Regions from separate parts of the Homo sapiens genome. Here region 2 is linked to region 1. The links come from fine-mapping of genetic effects on gene expression. A gene starts in region 1. The other region holds a variant in brackets. All regions are shown on one strand. Distances are between the middles of the regions.

The links. PIP is the estimated chance that this variant, and not a neighbour inherited with it, causes the effect.
Region 2: its variant is the best candidate, but not a certain one, in a credible set for the expression of RFX5 in whole blood (INTERVAL, PIP 0.51).

Annotation. Positions count from the first base shown.
Region 1 is chr1:151,345,499-151,349,888 of GRCh38, forward strand. It overlaps RFX5 (regulatory factor X5), which reads right to left and starts at 1,754. Exons shown (of 11, transcript NM_001025603.2): 1 at 1,713-1,754; 2 at 991-1,108; 3 at 707-835; 4 at 430-463. The coding sequence starts at 822. It overlaps RFX5-AS1 (RFX5 antisense RNA 1), which reads left to right and starts at 1,512. Exons shown (of 2, transcript NR_131972.1): 1 at 1,512-1,690; 2 at 2,134-2,393. RefSeq lists enhancers at 587-676, 1,016-2,215, 1,270-1,852, 1,819-2,168.
Region 2 is chr1:151,223,861-151,228,250 of GRCh38, forward strand. It overlaps PIP5K1A (phosphatidylinositol-4-phosphate 5-kinase type 1 alpha), which reads left to right. Exons shown (of 16, transcript NM_001135638.2): 2 at 385-419; 3 at 511-546; 4 at 3,460-3,540. Among named protein-coding and RNA genes, the nearest start is that of PIP5K1A, 28 kb to the left of the region's middle. The variant A/G (reference allele first, on the strand shown) is at 2,468.

The DNA.
Region 1 (4,390 bases):
CTACTTGGGAGGCTGAGGCAGGAGAATGGCGTGAACCTGGGAGGCGGAGCTTGCAGTGAGCCGAGATTGCGCCACTGCACTCCAGCCTAGGCGACAGAGTGAGACTCCATCTCAAAAAAAAAAAAAAAAAAGAAAGAAATTATTTGATGCTAGGTGCTCTGAGGAGCCCTATAGGCTACCATGGAGAGGAGGGAAGTAGAGGGGATCAGCTCTGACTTCATCTCTGCTGGGCTTCTATGCAAGTGCTCACAGAGATCAAGTGAGAGGCACAAAGTCAAACTGGCAGCAAGTTTGCAAAGCCAACTATCTTCTGACAAGGCAGAGGACCCTACCTCTCCCACATCAATGTTTTGTTGATGCCCATCATCCTCACATCCTCCTCCCTCAGCATTTCCATCCCTCTCTTGCCCTCTTCCCCAACACACTTACCAGGATCCCCTCTACTTTGTTCTGCACGGCCTTGCTGTGGGGAAGAGGAGAAAGCTGGAGGTCACACACAAGATTTTCCCTGTCTCTTTATCTGACTGCTAGGGAGGGAAAAGGACTGAAATGCCCAGCAGGTGCTCAAGAATTGCTACCATGGCCAAAAATCTCCCTCTGCTCCCATGCCCTTGCTGAGAGGCAGTTCATCTACAGCCAAAGTGAAGTGCTGCAGGGATCTATACTCAGGTCTTGGACAGGACTTGGAGATGTGATGAGTACTTACGAAATGGTACCTCGGAGCCTCTGAAGAAGGGTGGTAGGTTCCCCAGCCTCAGCACCACCTGGGGGGGCCCTTCCCCCAGTCTTGGGGCTCTTAGCATCAGGCTCATCTTCTGCCATCCCGGCATGAGGGCTAGAATTGAGAGGGACAGGCATAAAGATGTAACTCACACTGGCCTTCCCTTCCCCAGAAGGCCCCAGGGCACTCCTCATCTCTTTACCCAGAAAGGCAGAGAAACAGAAACAAAGCCTCCGAATTTCCCCGGTGGTCTTTTTCTCACCACTTGCCTTCTCCGAAAATTAGAAATTATTCCATTACTTCGCCAGGCCCATATATGCCCAAAGAGATCTTTGCCATCTCCATTCTATCTGCCCCACCTTTCTGAAGTCTCCTAAATCTGGAAAACTGTAAAGGAAGAGATAGGGGGATTGGGAATCCATGTTAGCAAGAAATTTTCATTTCTGCCTCTGACCCCATACTGCCCTCCTCCCCCTCAAAAACAACAATAACAGCCACAAAACAAAGTTCTCTAATTCTCAAAAATACTCCTCACCATTGCATATGCCTGGGAGGTCAGAAAGGATACGAACATATTCTGCCCTTCTAGGCTTGGAAAAAAAACTGGGCCCAAGTTCTCATTACTTAATCTCGCCACGACTTCCCCCGCTGCTCCCCCTCCCCACGTCGCCGGCCCCTACGTCATCTCCCACAACAGCCCATCCTGAGGCGCGCCCCCACCTCCTTCCCTTCCCCCTCCATTCAATCCCCGGTTTCTGCAAAGTGGAGCGGGGGTGGGGCGGGGTAGCGGAACTCATGCGCTGGGCGTCAGAAACCCGGCAGGGGAATGGGGTCCCAGATTCCGGGCACGTGCACATGGGTGAAGAAGCTGTTGAAAATACAGCTACAATCTTTTTCTGCTCTCCTCCCAACTCATCTTGCCCCTCCCTACCTCTGAACAGTCGCCTTCCAACACAAGCAACAATAAAGGTAAGGGAGAAAGAGAAACTACCTCGTAGCCACCTTCACTCCAGCCCAGCCCCAAGGTCCTGGCCCAGCCGGCTCGTGCGTTGCTTTATTTTCCTTTTTCTGAATGGTTGTAACAGCCGCGATCTGCCTAGATACACGGGCGGCCTGCTCTGTCATTGGTCACTGCTGCCACCCGGAGACAGAAGGCGCCGGGCTCGTACCGGCGGCCGCTGAAGTCTGCCTGGTAACAGAATCTGATTGGTCAATAGGGGAGGGAAAATCCAAAGTTGGTCTTATTTGAGTCAAGAGGGGGAAGTCCGGGTTGGGTTTCGGTTAAAACTGGGGTCGGTTGGGACTGCAGGTCCCAAGAGGTTCTTCTCTTAAAGGGACCGCAGGATGAAAGAACGGGCGCTCGGCTCCCTTTGGAACTGTCTTTTCTTTTGCCCTCCCCTTTTGTGTTTCAGTTTAGTCTACGGTCCTCAGAGCTGCCGGAAGAGAAGAATCAATGGATGATAAAATAACTAGACAATGATGGGTAGGAGTGATGGAAGTTCACTGTAAGCTCCTATAACCCCCCATCACCATCACCACATGCCTAATACAACCTGCAGACACACTTACTCGCAACAGACCTGCAATCTGGGCTCTCTTTTCCTTCTTGATGGAGGCCTCAAAACCTCAGCAGTTGTACCCATTAAACTAAAATGCTTTTTCCCTCTTAGTATTTCTTGGTTTCCCGTGTGTACTTTACTTCCAAAGAGTTGCAAATGCATTTGCATCCCCATAGTTCTGCAGTCGGTGAACCCTGGAATTTTGATGGACTCCCACGGGGGTGCTGGATGCCACAGGAACTTTTTACACTCAGGGAACATTGTACTGAATAGGTCATGGGTTCTTAACCCTCTTACTTAAGACATTTTAAGGTTATGAATCAGACAAAAGCAATGGACCCTCTACCATGAAAAATGCACACAGAGACCAAGTTTTGCATCTAATTTCAGAGAGGTCATGGACTCCAGGTTGAAAGCCTCTTACATGGATGTATTTTGTTTTGCGCAGCGGTCATGTTACAACCAAAACTGTATTTGCCATCCTGACATCTAATATGTTCTCCAGGCTCATCATTAATGTGCTTTTGTAAAGAAGACAGTAGTGCTGCCTGAGCTCATCACCATTGCCCTTTACAGCCTACCTTTCCCTATTATCAGCTTCTATGAGTGCTGGGGGAACCCAGGAGATTGTGGAGTTGGGGCAATAAGGATATATTGGCAAGAGGTTTTCTTTTTTCTTTCTTTCTTTCTTTTTTTTTTTTCTTTGAGACGGAGTCTCGCTCTGTTGCCCAGGCTGGAGTGCAATGGCACGATCTTGGCTCACTGCAACCTCCGCCTCCTGGGTTCAAGCGATTCTCCTGCCTCACCCTCCCGAGTAACTGGGTTTACAGACGTGCATCACCACGCCCAGATAATTTTTGTGTTTTTAGTAGAGACGGAGTTTCACCATGTTGGTCAGGCTGGTCTCAAACTCCTGACTTCAGGTGATCCACCTGCCTTGGCCTCCCAAAGTGCTGGGATTACAGGTGTGAGCCACTGCACCTGGCCAGGTTTTCTAATAACAGCTAAAATTTATTTGGTGTTTATTAGGCCAGGCGCGGTGGCTCACGCCTGTAATCCCAAAACTTTGGGAGGCTGAGGTGGGCGGATCACCTAAGGTTGGGAGTTCGAGACCAGCTTGACCAACATGAAGAAACCCCGTCTCTACTAAAAATACAAGATTAGCCGGGCGTGGTGGCGCATGCCTGTAATCCCAGCTACTCGGGAGGCTGAGGCAGGAGAATCACTTGAACTGGGGAGGCGGAGGATTGTGCCATTACACTACAGCCTGGCAACAAGAGCGAAACTCCGTCTCAAACAAAAACAAACAAAAATTTATTTGGTGTTTATTAGGTATCAGACACCATACCAAATGCTAAACACCTCGTGTAATGCTCACAGCAACTCTCTGAAGTAGGTACTGTTACTGTCTCCATTTTACAGATGAGGAAACCAATGTGGAGAGGTGAAGGGACTTGTCCTTAGTCATATATGTAGAAAGTGCTAGAATCAGGATCCAAAGGCAGGCAGTCTGCCTCAAAGCTGATTGTTTTGAGCACTGCCTTAGACTGCATGTATACATATTTGCAGATACTCATAAATAAATATGGGTATAACGGGCTGGACATGATGGCTCATGCCTATAATCTCAATACTTTGGGAGGCAAAGGCAAGAGGATTGCTTGGGGCCAGGAGTTTGAGACCAGCCTGGGCAACAAAGTGAGACTCTGTCTCTCTCTAAACACACACACACACACACACACACACACACACACACACACACACACACACCACACACAGCCAGGTGTGGTGGTACATGCCTGTGGTTCCAGCAACTTGGGAGGCTGAAGCAGGAGGATCACTATTACCCATGAGTTCGAGGCTGCAGTGAGCTATGATTGCACCACTCTGTCGTGCAGCCTGGGTGACAGAGTAAGACCCTGTCTCAAAACAAACAAACAAACAAAAAACAAAAAAAAAGCCGGCTGGTGTGGTGGCTCATGCCTATAATCCCAGCACTTTGGGAGGCTGAGGTGGGCAGATCACCTGAGGTCAGTTTGAGACCAGCCTGACCAACATGGAGAAACCCCGTCTCTACTAAAAACAAAAAACAAAAAACAAAACAAAAAAC
Region 2 (4,390 bases), 120 kb before region 1:
CGCCTGTAATCCCTGCTACTCAGGAGGCTGAGCAGGAGAATCACTTGCAGTGAGCTGAGGTCATGCCACTGCACTCCAGCCTGGGCGATAGAGTGAGACTCCATCTCAAAAAAAAAGAAAAAGTTATATTTCCCAGAGAAAATATGGATATTTGAATAAGAAAGGGGTCTAGAATAAAAATGGAATATGCACGAGGCCTATGTGAGTATGGAGAAGGAGAGAGGGACATACACAGTTGCTATCCAAAAGGATCTGGTATTACTGAGCAAGAGGCAGGAGTTTATACTTATGTTTAGTTTGACTCAAACTCTGATGGTTTCAGTATGCTTGACAGAGATGTGAGTGTGTGATACACTCTTATGATTGTTTTTTTTTCCCCCCTAGCAGCATCTGGAATCAAGAGACCCATGGCATCTGAGGTGAGTTTCATACTGATACAATGGTTACTAAAACCTTAATTCTGGGATAGAAGGAACCTGTTTATGACATTTTTATTTTTTCTCTACTTAGGTCTTGGAAGCTAGACAGGATTCTTACATCTCATTGGTAGGCTAGAAATTATGCAACTCATCTTTTATTGTAGTTTATTTTAAATATTAACAATATCTCACATTTATTGAGCATTTTTAATGTACCAAATGCAATATATACCAAAAAGTAAATACTGTACCTAAGTGCCCTTTAAGATATTCTTATTTAATCCTTCAAACAACTACAGTGAGGCAAATACTGTTATCTGTTTTACAGATGAAGAAAGTGAGGATTGCATAGTTACTAAGTGGGATTAGTAAAGCTGGGATTCAAATTCAAACCCAGGCAGTCTGACACTAAAGCTCACTTTCTTTGTTTTGCTGTTATGGCCTCCTGATTGCATACCTTCGATGAATATGAAGAACTTTTAGCCATGCAGAAGCTGTTAGTTTCACAAGTTTCTCTTTTTTGTCCAGAATATCGCCATTTTGCTCAACTTTCTTCCCATGGTGTATTTCCTAACCCTCTTCTCACTTCTTGCCTCTCCCCTGGGTTTTGTGAAAGGGGCCTCAGAATGCAGGCCCTTTTGACCTGGGACTTCAAACTTTCTCTCAGAACATCTTCCAGCATCTGTCAGGTGATATACTGAGAGTTTTCTGGTACTAAGGGCCTTGGCTAAAAGAATAGAACTTGAATATCAGGTCTTAAGATTGGGACATCCAGCCAGTCACGGTTGCTCATGCTTGTAATCCTAACACTTTGGGAGGCCAAGGTGAGAGGATTGCTTGAGGCCAGGAGATCGAGACAGGCCTGTGCAACATAGTGAGACCCTGGTTCTACAAAAAAATAAAACATTAGCCAGGTGCACACCATAGTCCCAGCTACTCGGGATTGCTTGAGCCCAGGAGGTTGAGGCTGCAGTGAGCCATTATCACACCACTGCCCTCTAGCCTGGGTGACAGAGACACCCTGTCTCAAAAAAAAACTGTGATACCCTGTTTCCACTAGTCTCTCAGCCTTCTGGCTTATAAACTTAATGAGTATTGATGTTATGAAGAGTAACTTCATGTCTGTTGCTCTGGCATTTTGGCTCTTGGGGATAACTTTCTAGACTGCTATACTGGTTTACTCCTCCCTTCTTGCCTTTTTTTTTTTTGAGATGAAGTCTTGCTCTGTTGCCCAGTATGGAGTACAGTGGCTCGATCTTGGCTCACTATGTCCTCTGCCTCCCAGGTTCAGGCAGTTCTCCTGCCTCAGCCTCCCAAGCAGCTGGGATTACAGGTGCACGCCACCATGCCCGCCTAATTTTTGTATTTTTAGTAGAGGCAGGGTTTCACCCTGTTGACCAGACTGGTTTTGAACTCCTGACCTCAGGTGATCCACCCGCCTTGGCCTCCCAATGTGCTGGGATTACAGGTGTGAGCCACTGCGCCTGGCCTCTTTTCTTTTTTCTTTTTTTTTTTGAGACAGAGTCACGCTCTGTCGCCCAGGCTGGAGTGCAGTGGCATGATCTTGGCTCACTGCAACCTCTGCCTCCTGGATTCAAGTGATTCTCCCGCCTCAGCCTCCTGAGTAGCTGGGATTAGAGATGCACGCCACCACGCCAGGCAAATTTTTTGTATTTTTAGTTGGAGATGGAGATTTGCCATGTTGCCCAGTCTGGTCTCAAACTCCTAGGCTCAAGTGATCTTCCCCACTTGGCCTTCTGAGTAGCTGAGATTACAGGTGCATGCCACACCACCCAGCTATGTTTCTTTTCTTTTTTTTTTTTTTTGAGACAGAGTCTTGCTCTGTCACCCAGGCTGGAGTGCAGTGGTGCGATCTCGGCTCACTGCAACCTCCACCTCCCAGTTTCAAGCAATTCTCTGCCTCAGCCTCCCGAGTAGCTGGGATTACAGGTGCCTACTACCACGCCTGGGTAATTTTTGTGTTTTTAGTAGAGACAGGGTTTCAACATCTTGGCCAGGCTGGTCTTGAACTCCTGACCTCGTGATCC[A/G]CTTGCCTCCACCTCCCAAAGTGCTAGTATTACAGGTGTGAGCCACCGCACCCGGCCATCGCCGAGCTGTGTTTCTACTACTGTTTAAAAATACTCACCTTTGGTTGGGTGCAGTGCCTCACACCTATAATCCCAGCACTTTGGGAGGCCAAGGCGAGTGGATCACCTGAGGTCAGGAGTTCGAGACTAGCCTGGTCAACATGTTGAAACCCCATCTCTACTAATAATACAAAAAATTAGCTGGGTGTGGTGGTGCATTCCTGTAATCTCAGCTACTCGGGAGGCTGAGGCTGGAGAATCGCTTGAACCCGGGAGGTGGAGGTTGCAGTGAGCCGAGATCGTGGCATTGCACTCCAGCCCAGGCGACACAAGCGAAACTCTGTCTCAAAAAAAAAAAAAAAAGTACTCTTATTTTCTGGCCGGGCATGGTGGCTCACACCTGTAATCCCAGCACTTTGGGAGGCTGAGGCAGGTGGATCACTTGAGGTCAGCAATTTGAGATCAGCCTGGCCAACATGGTGAAACCTCATCTCTACTAAAAATACAAAAATTAGTCAGGTGTGGTGGTGTGCACCTATAATCCCAGCTGCTCGGGAGGCTGAGGCGAGAGAATTGCTTGAACCGAGGAGGTGGAGGTTGCAGTGAGCTGAGATTGTGCCACCGCACTCCAGCCTGGGCAACAAGAGCGAGACTCTGTTTCAAAAAAATAAAGAGTAAAAATACTCACTTTTATTTTCTGTGTCTTCTTTCTGAGGACCAAAGGGAAAATATGTGTCCCTTGGAGTTTTCTTCTGTGATCTTTTAGCCACTTAATTCATTGGGAACCAACATTATAGCTGTATATTTGCATGGGATAGATCTGAAGATTTTGTAAAATGTTTTTAATCTAGAAAGAATATGTTGTTTCAGTTTATTTTGTTTTGATGTACCATTGTGGTAGCTATTTGGTGTCTTACATGGGAATTGTATTATAATCTTGACTCTTCTTCTAGGTGCCTTATGCCTCTGGCATGCCCATCAAGAAAATAGGCCATAGAAGTGTTGATTCCTCAGGAGAGACAACATATAAAAAGGTGTGTCTGGATGAAACCGTCTCATCTTACTCCAGGAGCTCAGCAGCTTACTCTGGGAACTCAGTCTCCTTGAAATTACTCTCCATGTACTGTCCTGTTTCTTGATCTCCTAAGCTTTTGCACATAATACAGCTTAGACTTTAGATTTATTTCTCAAAGGGTAAATTGTCTCCTTTTTGTATATGAATGTTTAAATGAGATTTTTTTTGGCTGGGCACAGTGCCCCAGGCCTGTAATCCCAGCACTTTGGGAAGCCGAGGCAGGCAGATCATTTTAGGCCAGGAGTTCAAGACCAACCTGGCCAACATGATGAAACTCTGTCTCTACTAAAAATACAAAAATTAGCTGGGTGGCACACGCTTGTGGTCCCAGCTACTCGGGATGTTGAGGCACGAGAATCGCTTGAACCTGAGAGGTGGAGGTTGCAGTGAGGTCAAATTGTGCCACTTGGTGGCACTAGCCTTGGTGACAGAACAAGACTCCATCTCAAAAGAAAAAAAAATTAGTGAACAAATCTGGCATTGGTTGCTATTTTACTGAGCTGAAGAAACTGGGTTTCCCTGTTAGGTATAAATATGTAACAAGGCCATGAAAGCCATTCTTATCTTACCACAGGGAACCATGTCTCTCGCAGTCTTTCTGTCTTTTTGTCCATTGCTGGGTATATATCAATAGAGGGCCAGGTCCCAGCCCAGCCTGTTGATACAAATATACACAATAGGTCAGACTTTTTTTTCTCTTCCATTTTTTTTTTAGAGCCAGGGTGTCAATCTGTCACCCAGGCTGGATTGCAGTGGCATGATCATTGGCCGGTAGCAGGAGGCTATTGTAACCTCCGACTCCTGGGCTC